Linked DNA regions of Homo sapiens: region 2 is linked to region 1. The links come from fine-mapping of genetic effects on gene expression. A gene starts in region 1. The other region holds a variant in brackets. All regions are shown on one strand. Distances are from middle to middle.

Evidence for each region. PIP is the estimated chance that this variant, and not a neighbour inherited with it, causes the effect.
Region 2: its variant is fine-mapped to the expression of ARHGAP33 in whole blood (TOPMed, PIP above 0.99).

What each region holds. Positions count from the first base shown.
Region 1 is chr19:35,770,605-35,780,206 of GRCh38, forward strand. It overlaps ARHGAP33 (Rho GTPase activating protein 33), which reads left to right and starts at 4,960. Exons shown (of 21, transcript NM_001366178.1): 1 at 4,960-5,060; 2 at 7,041-7,138; 3 at 7,220-7,304; 4 at 7,676-7,756; 5 at 7,860-7,997; 6 at 8,428-8,520. The coding sequence starts at 5,055. PROSER3 (proline and serine rich 3) reads left to right here. Exons shown (of 11, transcript NM_001367856.1): 11 at 1-562. RefSeq lists enhancers at 4,452-4,511, 6,533-7,418, 7,419-8,303 and a silencer at 4,742-5,221.
Region 2 is chr19:35,795,750-35,806,979 of GRCh38, forward strand. It overlaps PRODH2 (proline dehydrogenase 2), which reads right to left. Exons shown (of 10, transcript NM_021232.2): 6 at 10,926-11,081; 7 at 10,681-10,847; 8 at 7,219-7,329; 9 at 6,442-6,527; 10 at 4,239-4,473. The coding sequence ends at 4,289. It also overlaps the pseudogene TEX14BP. Among named protein-coding and RNA genes, the nearest start is that of PRODH2, 11 kb to the right of the region's middle. RefSeq lists an enhancer at 11,184-11,230. The variant GC/G (reference allele first, on the strand shown) is at 8,198.

The sequences.
Region 1 (9,602 bases):
TGGTGGCTCACGCCTGTAATCCCAGCACTTTGGGAGGCTCAGGTGGGCAGATTACTTGAGGTCAGGGGTTCAAGACCAGCCTGGCCAACATGGTGAAATGTCTCTACTAAAAATACAAAAATTGGCCAGGCATTGGTGGTGGGTGCCTGTAATCCCAGCTACTCAGGAGGCTGAGGCAAGAGAATTGCTTGAACTCAGAAGGCAGAGGTTGCAGTGGAAAAAAAAAAAAAGATAATTTCTCTCTCTTTCTCTCTCTCTCTGACACTTGCTTTAGAGGCTACATTAAAAAAAAAAACTAGTTGCCATGCTGGGGAGGGGTTTGGGTTACACAGGTGTATGCACTTATGAAACTTAGTGAAGTGTGTGAATTTCATTGTATGTAAAGTTTACCTCAAAAGAAAATATTGAACGCCAGTTAAAGATACGCCTGTAATCTGACTTCTTTGGGAGGCCAAGGCGGGAGGATCACTTGAGGCCAGGAGTTTGAGACTACCCTGGGCAACACAGCAAGACCTGTCTCTACAAAAATAAATAAGTAAATAAATAGCCAGATGTGGTGGCACACGATTTGCAGTCCCATTACTAGGGGCGGGGAGGGGCGCTGAGGCAGGAGGTTTACTTGAGCCCAGGAGTTCAAGGCTGTATTGTAGTGAACTAAGATCATGCCACTGCACTCCAGCCTGGGCTACAGAGCTAGACCCTGTCTTTAAAAAAAAGAAAAGAAAAAAAAAAGTATGTACACTGAAATATTTAGGGAACAATAAACCAATGTCGACAATTTATTTTGAAATGCATCCAGAGATGAGTTGGATTGATGGATAAATAGTGTAATAGGTAGATGTGAGATAAAGCAAATACAGCAAAGTGTTCATGGTAGGATCTAAGTGGCGGATATGCGGGTGTCCACTGTAAAATTTTTCAACTTTGCTGTAATTTAGAAACTTTTCATGGCCGGGCGCGGTGACTCATGCCTGTAATCCCAGCACTTTGGGAGGCCAAGGCGGGCGGATCACGAGGTCAGGAGATCGAGACCATCCTGGCTAACACGGTGAAACCCCGTCTCTACTAAAAATACAAAAAATTAGCCGGGCGTGGTGGCGGGCGCCTGTAGCCCCAGCTACTCGGAAGGCTGAGGCAGGAGAATCACTTGAACCTGGGAGGCAGAGCTTGCAGTGAGCCGAGATTGCGCCACTGCACTCCAGCCTGGGTGACAGAGCGAGACTCCGTCTCAGAAAAGAAACTTTTCATAATAAAATGATGGAGAATATATGATTGGGGTTGTTTTGATATCTGCATTTACAAAATGGAGGGATAAGATGGATTTCTAGTAACTTCTGTATGTCACATGGTAAATATAATATTTGTTTTCAACCTTTCTTTCTTTCTTTTTTTTTTTTTTTTTTTTTGAGATGGAGTCTTGCTCTGTCACCCAGGCTGGAGTGTAGTGGTGCAACCTCGGCTCACTGTAACCTCTGCCTTCCAGGTTCAAGTGATTCTCCTTCCTCAGCTTTCCGAGTAGTTGAGATTATAGGTGCATGCCACCTCACCTGGCTAATTTGTGTGTGTGTGTGTGTTTTTAGTAGAGACAGGGTTTCACCATGTTGGTCTGGCTGGTCTCGAACTCCTGACCTCATGATCCACCTGCCCCGGCCTCCCAAAGTGCTGGGATTACAGGTGTGAGGCACCGCACCCGGCCTGTTTCTAACCTTTCTAAGCAAACCATACATTTAAATGAAATCAGAGTGGGCACAGTGGCACAGGCCTGTAATCTCAGCACTTTGGGAGGCCAAGGCGAGCAGATCACTTGAGGTCACGAGTTAGAGACCAGCCTGGGCAATATAGTGAAACTCTGTCTCCACTAAAAATTAGCTGGGCCTGGTGGCGGGTGCCTGTAGTCCCAGGTGCTCAGGAGGCTGAGGCAGGAGAATTGCTTGAACATGGGAGGCGGAGGCTGCAGTGAGTTGAGATGGTGCCACTGCACTTCAGCCTGGGCAACAGAGTGAGACTCCATCTCAAAAACAAACAAACTAACAAAAAAATGTAATTGACAAGAAAAATAGCTGTTTAGATATAAGGAGAAATAAAAGATACTATAGTAGCAGAACCTGATCTAGCTGGGTCACGGGTGGGGTCTAGAAGCATTCCTGAGGAAGTTACACTTAAGCTGAGACAGGTAGAAATTATCTAGTTAACAAAGGGCTGTCCTAATTACTCTAGTTGGATAACCGCTCCCAAAACTTAGTGGCATAAAACAATTATTTTATTATGCTCATGGATTCTGAGAGTCAGAGGTTTGGACAGGGCTCATATGGGGACAATTTTTGTCTCCTCCATGATGTCTGGGGATTCACCTGGAAAGACTCAAAGGTGACTTGATAGACTTGATGGCTGTGGAGTAGAATCCTCCAGAACTTCTTCCGTGGTCTTCTCCCAGTCTGACTGGGACTATTGACTAATGCCTATACATAGCTCCATTGGCCTGGGCTTCCTCAAAGCATGTCTGCTTCAGCATAGTCACACTTCGCATATGATGCACCATGGTTCTACAGCTCATTCCAGTGGACGAGAACATTGGTCAAGAAGCTGCATTGCCTTTCATCACATAGCCTTAGAAATCACCGTGTCACTTCCACTGTTTTCTATTGGTTGAAGCTATCCTAGTCCCACCCAGATTCATAGAAAGCAATCATAGAGTCCGCGTCTTGATAAGAAGAGTGTCAGAGAATTTGCAGCTGTTTTAAAATCACTGCAGGACCCCATTCTCCATGATGTGATTATTACACATTGCATGCCTGTATCAAAACATCTCATGTGCCCCCTCAATATATATACCTAAATATACCTGTTATGTACCCAGAAAAATTAAAAAATAAAAAAAAAAATCACTGCAGGGGTTGATGGGGAAACACTAGACAGAAGGAATATCGTGTGGGAAATCCCTGTGATGAGAGTGAGGTCAGCAAATTTAGTACATAAGTAACTGCACATTCACCTCTCCCTCAGCACTCCCTTTCACCAGCCCTTGCTTAATTATTCTCCATAGAATGAATCACCTTCTAATATTTTTTTTTTTTTTCAGACAGAGTCTTGCTCTGTCTCCCAGGCTGGAGTGCAGTGGCAAAATCTCGGCTGACTGCAACCTCCGCCTCCTGGGTTCAAGCAATTCTCCTGTCTCAGGCTCCTGAGTAGCTGGGATTACAGGCACACGCCACCACACCTGGCTAATTTTAATATTTGTATTTTTAGTAGAGACGGGGTTTCAGCATATTGGCCAGGCTGGTCTCGAACTCCTGACCTTGTGATCCTCCCGCCTCGGCCTCCCAAAGTGCTGGGGTTACAGGCGTGAGCCACTGTCCCCAGCTTTTTTTTTTTTTTTTTTTTTTTTTTTTTGAGACAGAGTCTCACTTCAACACCTAAGCTGGAGTGCAGTGGCGCGATCTCGGCTCACAGCAAACTCTGCCACCTGGGTTCAACCCATTGTCTTGCCTCAGCCTCCCAGGTAGCTGGGATTACAGGCACGCCCGCCGCCACACCTGGCTAATTTTTGTATTTTTAGTAGAGACGGGGTTTCTCCATGCTGGCCATGCTGGTGTCGAACTCCTGACCTCAAGTGATCTGCCCGCCTCGGCCTCCCAAAGTGTTGGGATTACAGGCGTGAGCCACCACGCCTGGCCTAATATTCTATATTTTGTTTAATGTTAATTTTGTTCATTGTCTTCTCCCAGTAGCTTTTGAGCTCCAATGTGGGCAGGGTATATTTTCTCCTGGTTTGGTTGTTGATGTATGTACAAATTGATTAGAGTTTGAGTGAATGAATGAATGAATGAATGAATGAACAGACCAAGACCCTCTGAGATGAGAATTTGTTGAGGGCATGACTAAGGAGAGACCCTCCTGTGAAGGGCGTTATTACAGTGTTATCTGGGCATGCTCAGTATTAGCAGGCTCCATTGGGAATGGCTTTATGGGGGGCATAAGCATGATCTGGCATTTCCCCCTAAGCATTTTCCTAGAAAAAAAAAATCAAGGCTGGAGATTGGCCCGTAATAAGCAGTAGAAGGGGAAACAAGAAAATGTCCAGTGGGCAGGGGAGGCCAAATCGCAGAAAGCCTCGGGTTACGTCCTAGGCAAGGTATATGAGGCAACGAGAAACGTCCATGGGCGGAGCGTCCTCGGCATTATGTGAGCGGGGTCGGGATCAGGACTGAAAAGGTGAGACTTGGGACTGGGACTTTGAAAAGCTGCTTAAGGAACTGGGCACTGCTCTGAGGCCGTGGGAGAATCCAATTAAGACTATCAGGGGCTGGCTGGCGTGGTGGCTCACGCCTGTCATCCCAGCGCTTTGAAAGGAGGCTGAGGAGGGAGTATCTCTTGAGCCCCAGAGATCAAGACCATCCTGGGTAACATAGTGAGACCCCCATGTCTAAAAAAAATTAGCCAGGCGTGGTAGCGCACGCCTGTAGTCCCAGCTACATGGGAGGTATCGCTTGAGCCCAGGAGGTTGAGGCTGCAGTAAGCCACGATTGCAGGACTGCGCTCCAGCCTGGGCGACAGAGTGAGACCCTGTCTCTTAAAGAAATAAAAATAAAAAAGTCAGAAGAATGGACACTGGGAGTGGACGAAAGGTAGGGTCCATTGCTTGGTGTTGGAAGTGTCGGAAGCAAAGCATAAAGAACCTGGGGGCTTGTCTCAGGAGGGCGATGACAGCCAATGAAAAGCAGTCATGGGCGTGGCGCTGTCAAACTTCGAGGGGCGGGACCGAGGACACAGAGCCGGGGCGGAGCCCAAGGTGAAACCAATGAGAAGCCTCCGGGTGGGCGGGGCATCGGCCTAAGGCCAAGGGCGGAGCCAATGAGAAGCAGCGCCGCGTTCCCGCTGCCCCCCGCCCCCGTGGGGCGCGCGCCGGAGCCACGGGCAGCCGTTAGGGGCGGGGTCTGCAGCCGCCCGCGCGCGGCTCGCGCCCTCCCCTTTGTGTCGCCATGGCGGCGGCAGCGGCGACGAGAACGGCGAGCGAGGGGTCGAGCGCGGCCGGGGCCTGAGGAGGCTACGCGACCATGGTGGTAAGGGTCCCACGCGGCCGTCAGCCTGTCCGTCCGGATGTCAGTCTGTCCGTGCGCAGCCCCGCCCCGCGCGCCCCGCCCCCGGCCCCGCCCGATCCCGCGGCCTGTGCTTCAGCCGTGGTCCCTCCCGTCCTGCGGCCCCATCCCGGGTCCCAGCCCGTACCTCGACCCCGCCCCCTAAGCGCGCATCCCCGTCTTCCACGCCCTGGATGGGGTGACAGGGACCTAGGGCCTGGGCTGGGAGGAGGCGGGGCTAGTCCAGGAAGGGACCCGCGCCACCCAAGTGGCCCCTGCAGGGGCCTCCTGAGGCTCCTGGGTCCTTCCCCAGCTCCCATCCCAGCACCTTCCTCGGCATCCTTCTGCCAGCCCTCAGCCCTCCCCGGCGGAGCCCCCTCCTCCTCCCCACAGCCCCTTTCTCATTCCCGAGCCCCACCCCCCACCCGCTCCATCCCCAGCCTGACCCTTTTCTTCTCCTTCTCCCTCATTTTCACCCTATCCCAGTTCCTCTCAATCCCCCCCGCCCCGCATCAGTCTGAGCCTTTGCCTCGTCTCTCCAGCCACTCCTTCCTTACTCCACCCCAACAGGCCAGCACTGTACCTCCCTTGATCCTCGGGTCTGCTCCATCTCCTTGTCCTCATCCCCCTCCCCCACCATTTCCCTCTCCCACCATGCTGCTCCCGCTCATTCATCCATTCATTCCCTCACTTAGCAGACATTCACTGAGACCGCCTCTGTGCAGGCCCCACGCTCCAGGCACAGAGAGAGTCAGCTCCCATCCTGCCTTGGGGAACCTTATGGGCTGGAGGGGGACAGACCCTGAGGGTGAGACCCTGAGGGTGACTGGGGGTTGCAGGGACATGGAGCAGGGAGACGCTACAGCCCAGTGAATCTGTCTGGCAGCTGGTTAATTTATTCATCAGATTTTACCCAGTCCCTGCTGCGCGCGACTGGGCTGGCACTGGGGACCCAGAAAAGAATCAGGAACAATCATGTCTGAACACCAACTCAATGCCCAGCTCTATGCTGGGGAGCTCAGTCTGGGGCCCTCCTTCTGGGAGGCCGGTCATAGTCCAATGAGAGAGATGAACTTGTCACCACCAGTGCCATCTCAGAGTGATCAGAGCTGTGAAGGGAGAAGCTCTGGTCAAGGCATGGAACCTGGGATGGGGGAACCTCAGGGGATGGAGAGAGTCCAGAGGAGATGCCAGGTGCAGCCTGAAGGGTCAGGGAGAACTTCCTGGAGGAGGGCACATGTGAGTTGGGACCTGAGGGGTGGGAGTGAGGATGAATGTACCCAGGGAAAGGTGGGGCGAGTGTTCCAGGCTGAGGGAACAGCCTTTGCAAAGGCCTAGAAGGAAATGAGAAGAGGGTGCTTTTTTTGGACTCTTAGAAGTTCAAGAGCTCTGAGAGTGGGGGCAATGGGAAGAGATGGGACTGGAGAGGTAAACAGAAATCAGCTCAGGGAAGTCTCGATTATCAGACCAGAGAATTCAGACTTCGTCTTGAAGACAACAGGGAGTCATTGAAGGCCCAGGATCTATGGAGAAATAGAGCCAGATTTGTGTTTTCTGAAAACGATCCAGGCTATTGCGGAAAAGCTGGCAGGAGGGGAGAGGCTGGAAGCAGGAAGGCTGATGAGATGGGAGTTGTGATTGTCTAGACAGTGGTAGGAGATCACTGTACTCTGCAGGGGCTACGGAAGGGTTTTCAGCAGGGAGAGATGGGACCAGCATGCTCTCCATCCTGTTGCCCCGCCTCACGTCTGGCCCCTGCTTCTCCAGTCCCCCACCCCAGACCACACACGAAGAAGCAGTCCTGTCCTCAGCCCAGCCCTCACCTCCCCCGACCTGCCATCCTGCTTCATGCTCAGGGCGGTGTGTGGAGCGCCCGGGGCTCTGGACCCGCGCTGCCAGATAACAATGCTCTCGTTGTCTCTTTGCTCCCATCTCTGGGGGCCTCTGATTCTTTCTGCTCTACAGGCACGCAGCACTGACAGCCTGGATGGCCCAGGGGAGGGCTCGGTGCAGCCTCTACCCACTGCTGGGGGGCCCAGTGTGAAGGGGAAGCCTGGGAAGAGGTGAGGGTGAGGGAGGAAAGGGCTCAGCTAGGAGCTGGGGAGACTCAAGGAGCTGCTGGTGACGCATCCCCTGTCTCCCAGGCTCTCAGCTCCTCGAGGCCCCTTCCCGCGGCTGGCTGACTGCGCCCATTTCCACTACGAGAACGTTGACTTTGGCCACATTCAGGTATGGGGGCTTTGCATTTGCACCCAGGAGGGAAGACAATATCCTACCCAACCTTGCAACGATATCAGGTGCTTTGCTTCTGAAACTTATCCCTGTGACTGGCTGCTGCACGCGTCTGAGCAGTCAGTAGCAAAAGTTGCAGGAGCCACAGCAGATGGGGAGAGCTGCTCATTCATTCATCCATTTGTTCTTTTATTCATTCAACAACAACTTTTGTTAGGTATCTGCTCTATGTCAGGGACCAGGACATCACCAGGCCCTGTCCTCGGGGAGGTCCAGAAGGGAGTCACAAACCCGTCCCTAGATAGTGCCATCCCCAGGAGGTCAGGACTGGGACAAAAGTCCACCTGGGCCTTGCTTTCCCTCTGCAGCTCCTGCTGTCTCCAGACCGTGAAGGGCCCAGCCTCTCTGGAGAGAATGAGCTGGTGTTCGGGGTGCAGGTGACCTGTCAGGTGAGGCCATCCCGCCTCTCATCTAGCCTGAGAGAATGGCCACTGTAGTCCTCAGCTCGGTGTCATGGGGCCCCTGCTCCCTTCTGTCCCTCTGCTCCCACAGGGCCGTTCCTGGCCGGTTCTCCGGAGTTACGATGACTTTCGTTCCCTGGATGCCCACCTCCACCGGTGCATATTTGACCGGAGGTTCTCCTGCCTTCCGGAGCTTCCCCCGCCCCCCGAGGGTGCCAGGGCTGCCCAGGTAACCTGCTTGTTGTCTCAGCCCCTGCCTCATGAGTGTGTCCTCATCCACAGTGTGAAATCATCAAGGCAGCGGGATAGAGAAATATTTAAATACTGGTATGGCCCAAGTCCCAACCAATCTGAATGAATGGAGAAGCCTTAGAAACGTAGTAGGCTTCTGCTACATTTAGCTTTGCTAAGTTTTAGGATCATGGGGAGTTCCAGGGGGTCCCATGGGAGGGTCACCATGGTCATGCCAACCAGGGTACTCAAGAGCTTGGCCCAGCCTGCTTATTCATTCATATGCCCATATCTCAGTACCTAACAGCTGAGCAGCACCCATGTGTTCAGGATGAACTTCAGCCCAGAGACGAGCTAGGGCAGTGTGGGAGGGCAGTGGGCTCTCTCACGTCCACTCACAGAGGCCCACTCTGACAACCTGCCCCCAGATGCTGGTGCCACTGCTGCTGCAGTACCTGGAGACACTGTCAGGACTGGTGGACAGTAACCTCAACTGCGGGCCTGTGCTCACCTGGATGGAGGTGGGCCTGGGCAGGGGGCTTGGAGATTCCGAGTGGGTGAGGGGGTGTCTGAGGGGCGAGAAGCAGCCTCGGTGTGTGTGTGGGCATAGAAAAGAAAGGAGCCAGAGTGGAGGAGGCGTTGATATTTTAGTGTCTGTGTGGGCGCATGCCTGTGAGAGAATGTGTGTGAGCATGTGTGTGTGTGCACGTGTGTGTGTTAGCAGGTGTTCGGCTTTAAGGATACAAGGGTTTAAATGTATATCAGTTAGAAATGGGTTGGGCTGTAACTCACAGAACACCTGGCTATGAGTGGCTTAAACCAGAGGGGTTTTTTTTCTTTTCTTGAGATGGAGTTTTACTCTTGTTGCCCAGGCTGGAGTGCAGTGGCATGATCTCGCCCACCACAACCCCTGCCTCCCAGGTTCAAGTGATTCTTTTGCCTCAGCCTCCTGAGTAGCTGGGATTACAGGCATGTGCCACCACGCCCGGCTAATTTTATATTTTCAGTAGAGACTGGGTTTCTCCATGTTGGTCAGACTGGTCTCAAACTCCTGACCTCAGGTGTTCCGCCCACCTCAGCCTCCTAAAGTGTTGGGATTATAGGCATGAGCCACTGTGCCTGGCCTCTGGCTAATTAAAAAAAAATGTTTTGTAGAGACAGAGTTTTGCTATGTTGACCAGGCTGGTCTTGAACTCCTGGGGTCAAGCAATTCTCCAGGCTCACCCTCCCAAAGTGCTGGGATTACAGGCGTGTGCCACCACGCCCAGCACAGAGAGATTTTAGATGGCAACCGTGTGGCATCTGCTGTGGAGGATGAAGGTGCAGAGGTGGATGGGGAAGCCTTCAGGTGGGGAAGCCTTTGGGTGGGAGAGTCCTGGGACATGTGAGGGGAAATAAAGGGGTTTTTCTTAGAGGTTTCCCCACCCGCAGAGGGTGCCAGGGCTGCATCCCTACAAACAGGAATCTAGGTGTTTGACCAATAGCTCTGAGTGACAGGGGCTCTTGACGGGGGCGGGCAGTGGCCTCACCCAGCGCGGAGGAGCTTGGTATGCCTGCACTAACACCGTCTTCTGACCTGTCCTTGCCACATTCCACCTCTATT
Region 2 (11,230 bases), 26 kb after region 1:
TGCAGCCTTGACCTTTTGGGCTCAAGCAATCCTCCCTGCTCAGCCTCCCAAGTAGCTGGGACTACAGGCATATGATGCCACCACTCCCTGGTAATTTTTTTAAAATAGAGATAGGGTCTTGCTATGTTGCCCAGGCTGGTCTCAAACTCCTGGACTCAAGCAATCCTCCTGTCTCGGCTTCCCAAAGTGCTGGGATTATAGGTGTGAGCCATGTGGAACAGGTTGCCCAGCCTAATTTAATGTTAATTATGTTAATTTCCTGCTTACAATGCCAACAGTTTCCTATCACACACACAAAATCCAACAAAACTCACACTCCTTTAGAGGCCCTTAACTGTGTGGACTTGTGGCCACTTCAGCCTCACGTCTCTCCAAGTCCTGCTGCTACTCATACATGGGCAGTTCATTTTGACTTCAGAGCGTTTGCACAGCCTCTTCCATCACTCCCCACTTCTTTTTTTTTTTCTTTTGAGACGGGGTCTCGCTCTGTTGCCCAGGCTGGAGTGCAATGGCACAATCTCAGCTCACTGCAACCTCTGTCTTCCGGGTTCAAATGATTCTCCTGCCTCAGCCTCCCAAGTAGTTGGGATTACAGGCACATGCCACCATGCCTGGCTGATTTTTGTAGTTTTAGTAGAGACGAGGTTTCACCATGATGGCTAGGCTGGTCTCAAACTCCTGACCTCAAGTGATCCGCCTGCCTCGGCCTCCCAAACTGCTGGGATTACAGGCATGAGCCATTGCACCCCACCATCTCTCCCCACTTCATTTCACCTTTTTTGCGTGGCTGACTCTTATACTGTAAGACTCAAGCATCCTCCACCTGAAAGGCCATACTGTCTAGGGTCTCATCCTCATCCCACTGCATTTCATTCCCAATGGTCCAAGGGTCATGTTCACCCTTAAAGCCCCATCAGGGACCACAGAGCTCGGGACACAGTCGGTGTTCGGTACCACTGCTGACTGGCCAACTGAAGCCACACCCTCCATACAGCTCCTTGATCCTGCCGCCACAGATGTACCTGCAGCCAGGCCCTCACCTCTCCGCAGGAGCCTGGCCGGGCCCCATCCTGGGCCCCCAGCCACAGCCAGGTGGTGCAGACGGCCCACCTGGGTGTCTAGATCCCTCTTGGAGCCCAGCTCCACTGGGAAGCGCGAAAGGGCTGCGAGGGCATCTGTGGGCTGCGGCTCAGTCGGCTCCTGGGCAGGGATCCGCTAGGGGGGTCTCATCAGGGAAGGGGGATGTGAAGGACTGGAACTTTGGGCACAACAAAACAATGAAGACAGAGCTGGCTGGGGGTCCTGGGGGCGCAGTCTAGACGGGAACGGGATTTAGGAGGGGTCTGATGGGAAGGGAGGTGGCTGAATGAGAAAAGGGGGTGGCTCTGGGAGGGCGACACACCAGAAGGTCTGGGGTCGCAGGGAGGCTGAGAGCTGAGGGGGATCTAAGGCAATCGGGAGTCTGGGAGGGGGCTTAGGGCTGGGGTCGGGCGTGCCAGGGTGGCAGAAGGGCTGCGAGGATAGGATCCGAGCTTGGGAAAGGAGTCGGAGGGCTCAGGAGGAGGCTCTGAAGGCTGCGGTGGGAGGATGAGGCGCCTGTGGTTTAGGATCTGAGAGGCGGTGAGAGGGGTCATGGGGAGGCTCTAGGGACAGCGTCTGTGGGGTCCGTGGGGTGGATGGGGTCTGAGGGCAGCGGGCGCGCTCTGAAGGAGGAGAGGGCGCTGATGGCAGGATCTGCCGACTGTGCGGGGGTCCGCGGGTGGGACGCGTGGACTAAGGACTAGGGAAGTGTCTGTGTGTTGGGGGTGGGGGCTACAGGCTGGGGAAGGGGGCTCTGAGGACAGTGTCTGGGGCTGGGGAAGGGGTCAGTGGAATGGGGAAAGGGTTCGCTAAAGGGGCGGGCAGGGGTGTGGTCTGAGGGCCGCGGAAGAGAAGGACAGGGTGGGAGGGGCCTGAGGGCTGGGGGAAGGGTCTGAGGGTGATCTGAGGGCCCAGAAAGCTCTGGGAAAGTTCTGGGCCCACACCCCAGTCCTGGTGGCTTTGCACTCACCGTTGGGCTAGATAGTGGTCGCCACCTGACTGCCACATGATCCGGCCGGCTGTATGAGCGGGAATCCGAGGTGCTTGAGCACCAGTGGCCTCCCGCAGCGCCTGCGCAGTAGCATCCCCTTCCCCAACACAGCCCCAGCCACTCAGCCTGGGCCCCACAGCCCTGACCAGTCGGGGCTGTCACTGTCTGAGGACGGGGCTGTCTACCCACACCGGACTAAGCCCTGTAAGGCAGGGCCTTGGGTCGTTCTTGTCACTGTTGTGTTCACAGCGTTGTTCACCCCAGAACCTAGCTCAAAAGAGGCCTCATTCAGTGCTTTTATTCTCACTCTGTCGCCCAGGCTGGCGTGCAGTGGCGCGATCTCGGCTCACTGCAACCTGCATCTCCCAGGTTCAAGCAATTCTCCTTCTTCAGCCTTCCGAGTAGCTGGGATTACAGGCGCACGCCACCATGCCCGGCTCATTTTTGTATTTTTAGTAGACACGGGGTTTCACCATGTTGGCCAGGCTGGTCTCAATCTCCTGACTTCTGCCCGCCTCGGCCTCCCAAAGTGCTGGGATTACAGGCATGAGCCACTGCACCTGGCGTTTTTCTCAGACAGGATCTCACTCTGTTGCCCGGGCTGGTGTGCAGTGGCAAGATCATAGCTCACTCCAGCCTCCACCTCCAGGGCTCAAGCCAACCTCCTGCCTCAGCCTCCCAAGTAGCTGGGACTACAAGCACAGGCCACCCACCACACCTAGCTAATTTTTTTTTTTTTTTTTAAGATGGAGTCCTGCTCTGTCGCCAGGCTGGAGTGCAGTGGCACGATCTTGGCTCACTGCAACCTCCATCTCCCAGGTTCAAGTGATTCTCCTGCCTCAGCCTCCCAAGTAGCTGGGATTACAGGCGAGTGCCACCACGCCTGGCTAATTTTTGTATTTTTAGTAAAGACAGGGTTTCACCATGTTGGGCAGGATGGTTTCGATCTCTTGACCTCGTGATCCGCCGGCCTCAGCCTCCCAAAGTGCTGGGATTACAGGTGTGAGCCACAGCACCTGGCTAGCTAATTTCTTTCTTTCTTTTTTTTTTTTTTTTTTTTTTGAGAGATAATGGGGTTTCACTATGTTGCCCAGGCTGGTCTCAAACTCCTGACCTCAAGCAATCCACCTGCCTTGGTCTCCCAAAGTGCTGGGATTACAGGCATGAGTCACTGCACCTAGTTTCATTCAATGCTTATTAACTGAGAGAATGGCTTGGCTCTTTCTTCTGTCCCTCCCTCGCCAAGTGGCCTGGGCCGAGCCCCTTGACTTCAGTGCCTTGGTGTCTGCTCCCCATGTGTGCCCTTCCTTTAGGCATCCCCTGGGATGAAGAAAGTTCTGCATCAGTCACTGGCCAGACCCAACCCAGGATGGTCTGCCTCAGAGGTGAGGGAGGCTTCCTTAGTCCTCCGTCAATGCCCTGGCTATGCTCAATGGGTGTCTAACGATCTTTTTTTTTTTTTTCTTTTCTTTTTTTTTTTTTTTGAGACTGAGTCTCACTCTGTTGCCCAGGCTGGAGTGCAGTGGCGTGATCTCAGCTCACTGCAAGCTCTGCCTCCTGGATTCATGCCATTCTCTTGCCTCAGCCTCCCGAGTAGCTGGGACTACAGGCGCCTGCCACCACGCCCGGCTATTTTTTGTATTTTTAGCAGAGACGGGGTTTCACCATGTTAGCTAGGATGGTCTCGATCTCCTGACCTCGTTATCCACACGCCTCGGCCTCCCAAACTGCTGGGATTACAGGCGTGAGCCACCGTGCCCGGCCTCTTTTTCTTTTCTTTTCTTTTTTTTTTTTTAAACACAGTCTCTTGCTGTCACCCAGACTGGAGAGCAGTGGTGCAGTCATAGGTCACTGCAGCCTCAAACCCCTGGGCTCAAGTGATCCTCCTGCCTCAGCCTCCCGAGCTGGGACCACAGGCACGCACCACCATGCCCTACTGATTTAATTTTTTGTAGAGAAAGAATATTGCTATGTTGCCCAGGCTGGTCTTGAACTCCTAGACTGAAGCACGCCTCCCACCTCGGCCTCCCAAAGCGCTGGGAGTATAGGCGAGAGCTACCACTCCCAGCCTAACGATCTCTCTTGAACTGCAAAACCCCTAGCTTGGGCTGGCTGAGGTCAAGATGAGCCCTTCCCCAAGGAGGCGGCGTCAGTGCAGGACAGCAGCTTAGGCAGCACCTAAGGACTTTTATTGACCACATGACCCCCTCAGGGGTGCTAGTGGGGTATCCTTCGGCATCCTGGCAGCAGCCGCCGCCACAGTTCTTGGCTGAGCAGCTCCTGTTCCCTGCGGGCACCCTGAAGCACGCTCCGGTTCTCCTGGGCCCTCCGGATCAGGTAGGGGATTACCTCCTCCAAGGAGCCATAGGGAATGGACTTATACACTACATAGCCGGCCTGCCCTGCAGGGAGAGTGGGTTTTGTTTTTTCGTTTTTGGTGTTTTTCTGAGACAGAGTCTCGCTCTGTTGCCCAGGCTGGAGTGCAGTGGTGCAATCTCAGCTCACTGCAAGCTCTGCCTCCAGGTTCAAGCGATTCTCATGCCTCAGCCTCCAGAATGGCTGGGATTATAGGCGCTTGCCACGACGCCCGGCTCATTTTTGTATTTTTAGTAGAGATGGGGTTTCACCATGTTGGCCAGGCTGGTCTCGAACTCCTGACCTCAAGTTATCCTCCTGCTTTGGCCTCCCAAAGTGCTGGGATTACAGGCGTGAGCCACCATGCCCAGCCTGGAGTGTTGACAGGGTATGGGCTTGGGCTGGGGGGACACTCCCCAGTCCCCACCTGGAACAGAGACTTCTGTTTCTGAGAACATGGCAGATTAAGTGAGTTGGATAAAATTTCTAACTGAAAAAGCTAAAAGTCCTGGAGCAAACTTTTTTTTTTCTCTCTTAGACAGGGTCTAGCCCTGTGGCCCAGGCTGGAGTGCAGTGGTGTGATCACGACTCACTGCTGCTTTGACCTCCCAGGCTCAAACAATCCTCCCACCTCAGCCTCCTGAATAGCTGGGACCACAGGCATGCACCTCCACGCCCAGCTAACTGTTTTTATTTTATCTCAATTGATTAATTAATTAATTAATTAATTTTGAGACAGAGTCTTGGTCTGTCGCCCTGGCTGGAGGGCAGTGGCACAATCTCAGCACACTGACCAACCTGGCCAACATGGTGAAACCCCGTCTCTACTAAAAATACAAAAATTGGCTGGGCATGGTGGTGCGTGCCTATAATCCCGGCTACTGGGGAGGCGGAGGCAGGAGAATCACTTGAACCCAGGAGGCGGAGGTTGAAGTGAGCTGAGATCGTGCCACTGCACTCAAGTCTGGGCGACAGAGCCAGACTCTGTCTCAAAAACAAAATAAATAAGCTGGGCGTGGTGGCTCACGCCTGTAATCCCAGCAACTCTGGGAGGCCAAGGCAGGCAGATCACCTGAGGTCAGGAGTTTGAGACCAGCCTGGCAAACATGGTAAGACCCCATCTCTACTAAAAATACAAAAATTAGCTGGGCGTGGTGGCAGCCGTCTGTAATCCCAGCTACTTGGGAGGCTGAGGCAGGAGAATCGCTTGAACCTGGGAGGCAAAGGTTGCAGTGAGCCAAGATGGCACCACTGGACTCCTGCCTGGGTAACAGAGCAAGACTCTGTCTCAAAATAAATAAATAAATAAAATAAAATAAAAGAGAAAATGAGAACCCAGAGAGAGAAGAGACACACAGCAAGCCACTTCTGCCCCAAAAGCAAAACCGAGGTGCTATCTGATGAATTCACAGAGTTGCGGGGGGACATTGAGTCAGTCTTCAAGCCTGAGGTGAGAGTTATAAGGGAGAACTTCCCCAAGTTAAGCTGGAACCCAAAAATCTACACCCTTAGAGTAAGAGTTAATAAAAAGTCAACCCTGCAACCTTCCCCCAGTCCCAGGAAATGGTCTTGGCCATAAACAGATCAAGGAAGAAAACAGAAAAATCCACCTCTGCGAAGTTGGGGCTATGGGTTAACCCCCTTATGTATTTGCAGCTCAAATTTGTGCCAGTGGGGTGTTTCAAGAAACCTCAAGCTATGAATTTAGGATAAAGTGATTTCGTTCTGCTTAGCACCTGGCAGAAGGAAACATTAATTACCTGGTGTCAGGCCCTGAGGAGCAGCACAGTAAAGATAACAAAACACACAAGAAATAATACACCATGATCAAGAACCAGCAGAAATGACAGACGGCAGACACAGAGACACAGCCTTGGAAGGCCCACAGACACTGGAATGACAGATCTCTCTGGAAGGATCTGGAGGCTGGGCCTTGGTTGGGAATAGGAGAAGGGCTCTGGCTGGGAGGGAGTAAGGCCTGGGGCTTGATGGGGGTGGGGGAGCCATTCACATACCCAGTGCTAGAGAGACGTGGTCACACATGCCCAGAAGTTGTCCGAAACAGACAGTCCCATCCAGAGGAATGCCCAGCTCCCACATGCTACAGAAAAGGCCACATCATCAGTCCAGACTGTGGCTGCATCTACAGCTTAAAGTCAGCCACTATGCACCCATATGGCGGCTCCAGTAATTCAAACATTGAAGTATTTCCAAACTCAATGATACATAATAACCAGTCCTTTGCATTCCTTGAAGGTCCCCCAGTGACTCCCAGCCAGTTCCCTGGAGCCCTCAGACCTCCTCATGCCCCAGCAAATAAGGGGCAACGTCTTGTCCATCTGGGACCTATAAGGACTTACAGGTATAGCAGGGGTTAATGTGTTTGTTTGTTTGTTTGTTTTAAGAGGTAGGGACTTGCTTTGTTACCCAGGCTGGAGTGCAGTGGCTCAAGCACTGCTCACTGCAGTCTCAACCTCTTGGGCTCAAGTGATCCTTCCACCTCCGGAATAGCTGGGACTACAGGTGTGCGCCACCACACCCAGCTGTTTTTTTTTTTTTAATTTGTTGTAGAAATGGGGTCTTGCTGTGTTGCCCAGGCTGGTCTCAAACAATCCTCCACCTTCGCCTCCCAAAGTGTTGGGATTATAGGCATGTGCCAACCATGCCTGGCTATAAATATTTTTAAAATTCTCCCCAGAACACCTCTGTCCATCTCTGGCATTTGAGCAAAGGAGAGGAAGGGAGGGCCCTTTTGTGGGCACCTATTTCCCGCCCATCCCTCCACCTCATACCGCTTGGTTGCCTGGCGAACAGATTCCTCATTGTGGGAAGCCACCATGAGGTGGCACATGGGGCCATGGCGGGCCACGTGCGTCAGCATCAGTTCCAGGCAGCGGCTGTAACTGAAGGGAGATGCTCTGTTCAGCTCACCTGGTGAGCGAGGGTCAGGCCCCAGCGACTGGGGTGGGTGGGGTGCTCCTAAGCAAGGGGTCTCTGGAACCAGTACTCTGTTCCATCTGCACCAGTTGTAAGGGACATCACTTCTCTGAGCCACTTTCATCTTCTGGGGTTTTTTGGGGGTTTTGTTTGTTTGTTTTTGAGATGGAGTCACTCTGTTGCCCAGGCTGGAATGCAGTGGCATGATCTCAGCTCACTGCAACCTCCACCTCCCAGGTTCAAGGGATTCTCCTGCCTCAGCCTCCCGAGCAGCTGGGATTACAGGCGTGCACCATCACACCCGGCTAATTTTTGTATTTTTAGTAGAGACGGAGTTTCGCCATGTTGCCCAGGCTGGACTCGAACTCCTGACCTCAGGTGATCTGCCCGCCTCAGCCTCCCAGAGTGCTGGGATTACAGGCGTGAGCCACCGCACCCGGCCCCATGTTAATCTCTTGTCACTGTGAGTTTCCGAGCAACACTGTTGTGAGGATGGAGTGAGATAAGGGGGATATGAAGTCTTTGGGACAGTGGCGGCGGTCTCACAGGAGAGGGTCGCATCACATGCACAAGATGACATTTCCCCAAGGTTATCACTGCTGCATTGTCAACAGAACATCACTAGCAACAGCCCAAATGTCCATAAATGGGGAACTGGCTAAGGAAATTGTGGTACAGAGAAGATAGTGCTCTATCGCGCAACTGTGAAAAGGAAGGAAGACACTGTCTGGGTACTGATATGGAAGAGGAAATAGATTGGCAAACACCTTGCAAGCATGCTGCAGGCCACGGGCCACGCTATGTATTTCACATCCTCTGTGGGTCTTCCCTATC[GC/G]CCCCCAGACCTGTTTTCTACCCTTCTCTGCCCCTCAGGAAGCTGACACTTTTGCCCCACATCCCCCATGGAGTCATGTGCAGGAAGGAGTGTGGGTGTCTCACCTCGGCCCCTCCCTGCTCACCCTGACTGTGTTCTGTGTGTGGCCACAGCTCCCTAAGGTGGCCCCTCTCCTTCAACTACAGCATAGGGGTCAAAATAGCTTCCTAATAGCTTCCCTGACTTTGCCCACACTTCCTTTTCGTTTTGTGTTTTTTAGAGACTGGGTCTCACTCTGTTGCCCAGGTTGGAGTGCAGTGGCGTGATCTCGGCTCACGGAATCCTCCAACTCCTGGGCTCAAGCGATCCTCCCACCTTGGGCTCCCAAAGTGCTGGGATTACAGGTGTGAGGCCCTGCACCTGGCCCCTGACACTTCTATAAACAGCCTCTTCACCACATTTCCTTTAGTTAAAACCCTTTGTGCAGAATTCTGTTTGCTTTGGAGAAAGCTAATCACTCATCTAATTCCCACATCAACTCTGGGAGGCAGATGTTCTTATTCCATTTTAACAGAGTGGGGAGACTGAAGCTGAGAGGGGTTCTATCTCTTGTCCCCAGGTCACACAGCTAGAGGTGGCCAGGCTGGGATTTGAACTCAGGCTGTCTGATGCTCCAGAGCCCAGGCTCCTTATCGGTAGGCTAGTCTGCCTTTAAAATGCACAGTTGTGGCTGGACATGCTGGCTTACGCCTATAATCCCAGCACTTGGGGAGGCCAAGGCAGGAGGGCTGCTTCAGCCTAGGAGTTCAAGACTAGCCTGGGCAACATAGGGAGACCCCGTGTCTACAAAAATAAAAAAATGTGTTGGGTATGGTGGTGTGCGCTGGTGGTCTTAGCTACTGGGGAGACTGAGGTGGGAGGATGGCTTGGGCCTGGGGAGTCAAGGCTGCAGTGAGCCAAGATCGCACCACTGCACTCCAGCCTGGGCGACAGAGTGAGACCCTGTCTCAAAAATAACTTAAAAAACAAATGAAAAAAGCCAAATATACAAGGGCACATATTGTATGATTCCATTTATAAGATTGTCTAGAATAGGCAAATCCACAGAGACAAAAAGTAGGTTAGTGGTTTCCAGGGGCTGAGGGGAGGAGGGAACAGAAGGCAGCTGACTGCTCATTGGTATGAGGTTACTTTTTGGGGTGATGAAAATATTGTGGAATCAAAGAGTGGTGATGGTTGCACAATTTTGGGAATATACTAAACTCCACTGAATTGTACATGTTAAAATTGTGAATTCTATGATACGTGAATTATATTTCAATATTTAAAATAATAGTGCAAATTATTATTATTATTTTGAGATGGAGTCTCACTCTGTCGCCCAGGCTGGAGTGTAGTGGCTCAATCTTGGCTCACTACAACCTTTGCCTCCTGGGTTCAAGTGATTCTCCTTCCTCAGCCTCCCAAGTAGCTGGGATTACCAGTGCAAGCCACCACACCCGGCTAATTTTTGTATTTTTAGTAGAGACAGGGTTTCACCATGTTTGTCAGGCTGGTCTCAAACTCCTGACCTCAGGTGATCTGCCTGCCTCAGCCTCCCAAAGTGCCGGGATTACAAGCGTGAGCCACCATGCCCGGCCATAATTTTTTGTGTTTAATGTTTTTTACAGATGGGGTCTTGCTATGTTGTGCAGATTGGGCTCAAACCCCTGGGCTCAAGCAATCTTCCTGCCTCAGCCTCCCAAGTAGTTGGGATGACAGGTGCACACCACTGTGCCTGGCTTGGTGCCAGTTAAGCTGATGGTACACAAACGTGCCCTGGAGCCCCTGCAGATCTTGGACATGAGCCTGGATTCCAAGCGTGGCTAGGCCACCTGCTCTGTAGCCTGGCTGAGTCCCTGTGGCCCCCAGAGAAGGTACCAAGAAGTAAAGATCTAAGGAGGTGAGGGATGGGGCCATGCCACTGTCTGCAGTGGGAATGTCCCAGGCAGTGGAAACAGGATGTGCCAAGCCCCTGGGTAACATGGAGGAGGCCAGTGTGGCTGTAGTGGAGTGAGGGAGAGGAAGAGAGGGAGGGAAAGTTAGGGAAGTGACAGGGAGCATGTGGGGCTTAGAGGCCACTGTAAGGATTTCTTTTTGTTTTGTTTTGTTTGTTTGTTTGTTTGTTTGTTTGTTTTGAGACAGATTCTCGCTCTGCTGCCCAGGCTGAAGTGCAGTGGTGCAGTCATGGCTCACTGCAGCCTTGAACTCCTGGCCTCAAGTGATCCTCCCACCTCAGCCTCCTAAGTGGCTGGAACCACAGGCATGTGCTACCACACCTGACTATTTTTAAAATTTTTTAGAGATGGGGTCTCCCTGTGTTGCCCAGGCTGGTCTCCAACTCCTGCTCTCAAGTGAATCTCTAGCCTCAGCCTCCCAAAGCACTGGGATTACAGGTATGAGCCACTGCACCCAACCACTAGGTGTTATTATTTCCTGCAGAGGCCAGCTGGCCCGGGCCTACCTCTGACTGGTGGCCTCATAGTCAGGCTGAGTGGGGTCTTCCATCCCATGGAGCTGGGCCACCGCTCTCTCCTTGTCCAGATATGCACCTCGTACCAGCTTCACTCCGAAGGCCAGGCCGGCCCTGTGCGCAGCCTCTGCATCCCTCCCCAGCCGCTCGAATGTGTCCTATAGGGCACGCAGGCAGGTTCTGGTAGGTCAGGGTGTGGGGACCCCAGCCTGTACCTCCTGGAACACACTGCACACCTTTAGACAGGCCTGGTAGGTGTTCCACACCCAGGGCCCGCCTTCACCCGGGCTGTTCCAGCGCACAGCCAGGGCAGCCACCAGCAGCGAGAGCGCAGGGTTCAGTGAGGTGTACTCCGCATCCACCAGGAGCCGCACGTGCTGGGCCCGGGCATACTGATGGCGACAGAGACGACGGTCAGGGCCCCGGGTGTCCAGCAGGGGCAGTGGAGCCAGATCCCAGCAGGAGGGGTTACCTGTGCCACCCGATGCAGGCGGCTGAGGGAGGCCCGGAGGTGCTGGTTCCAGCAGGAGGGGTTACCTGT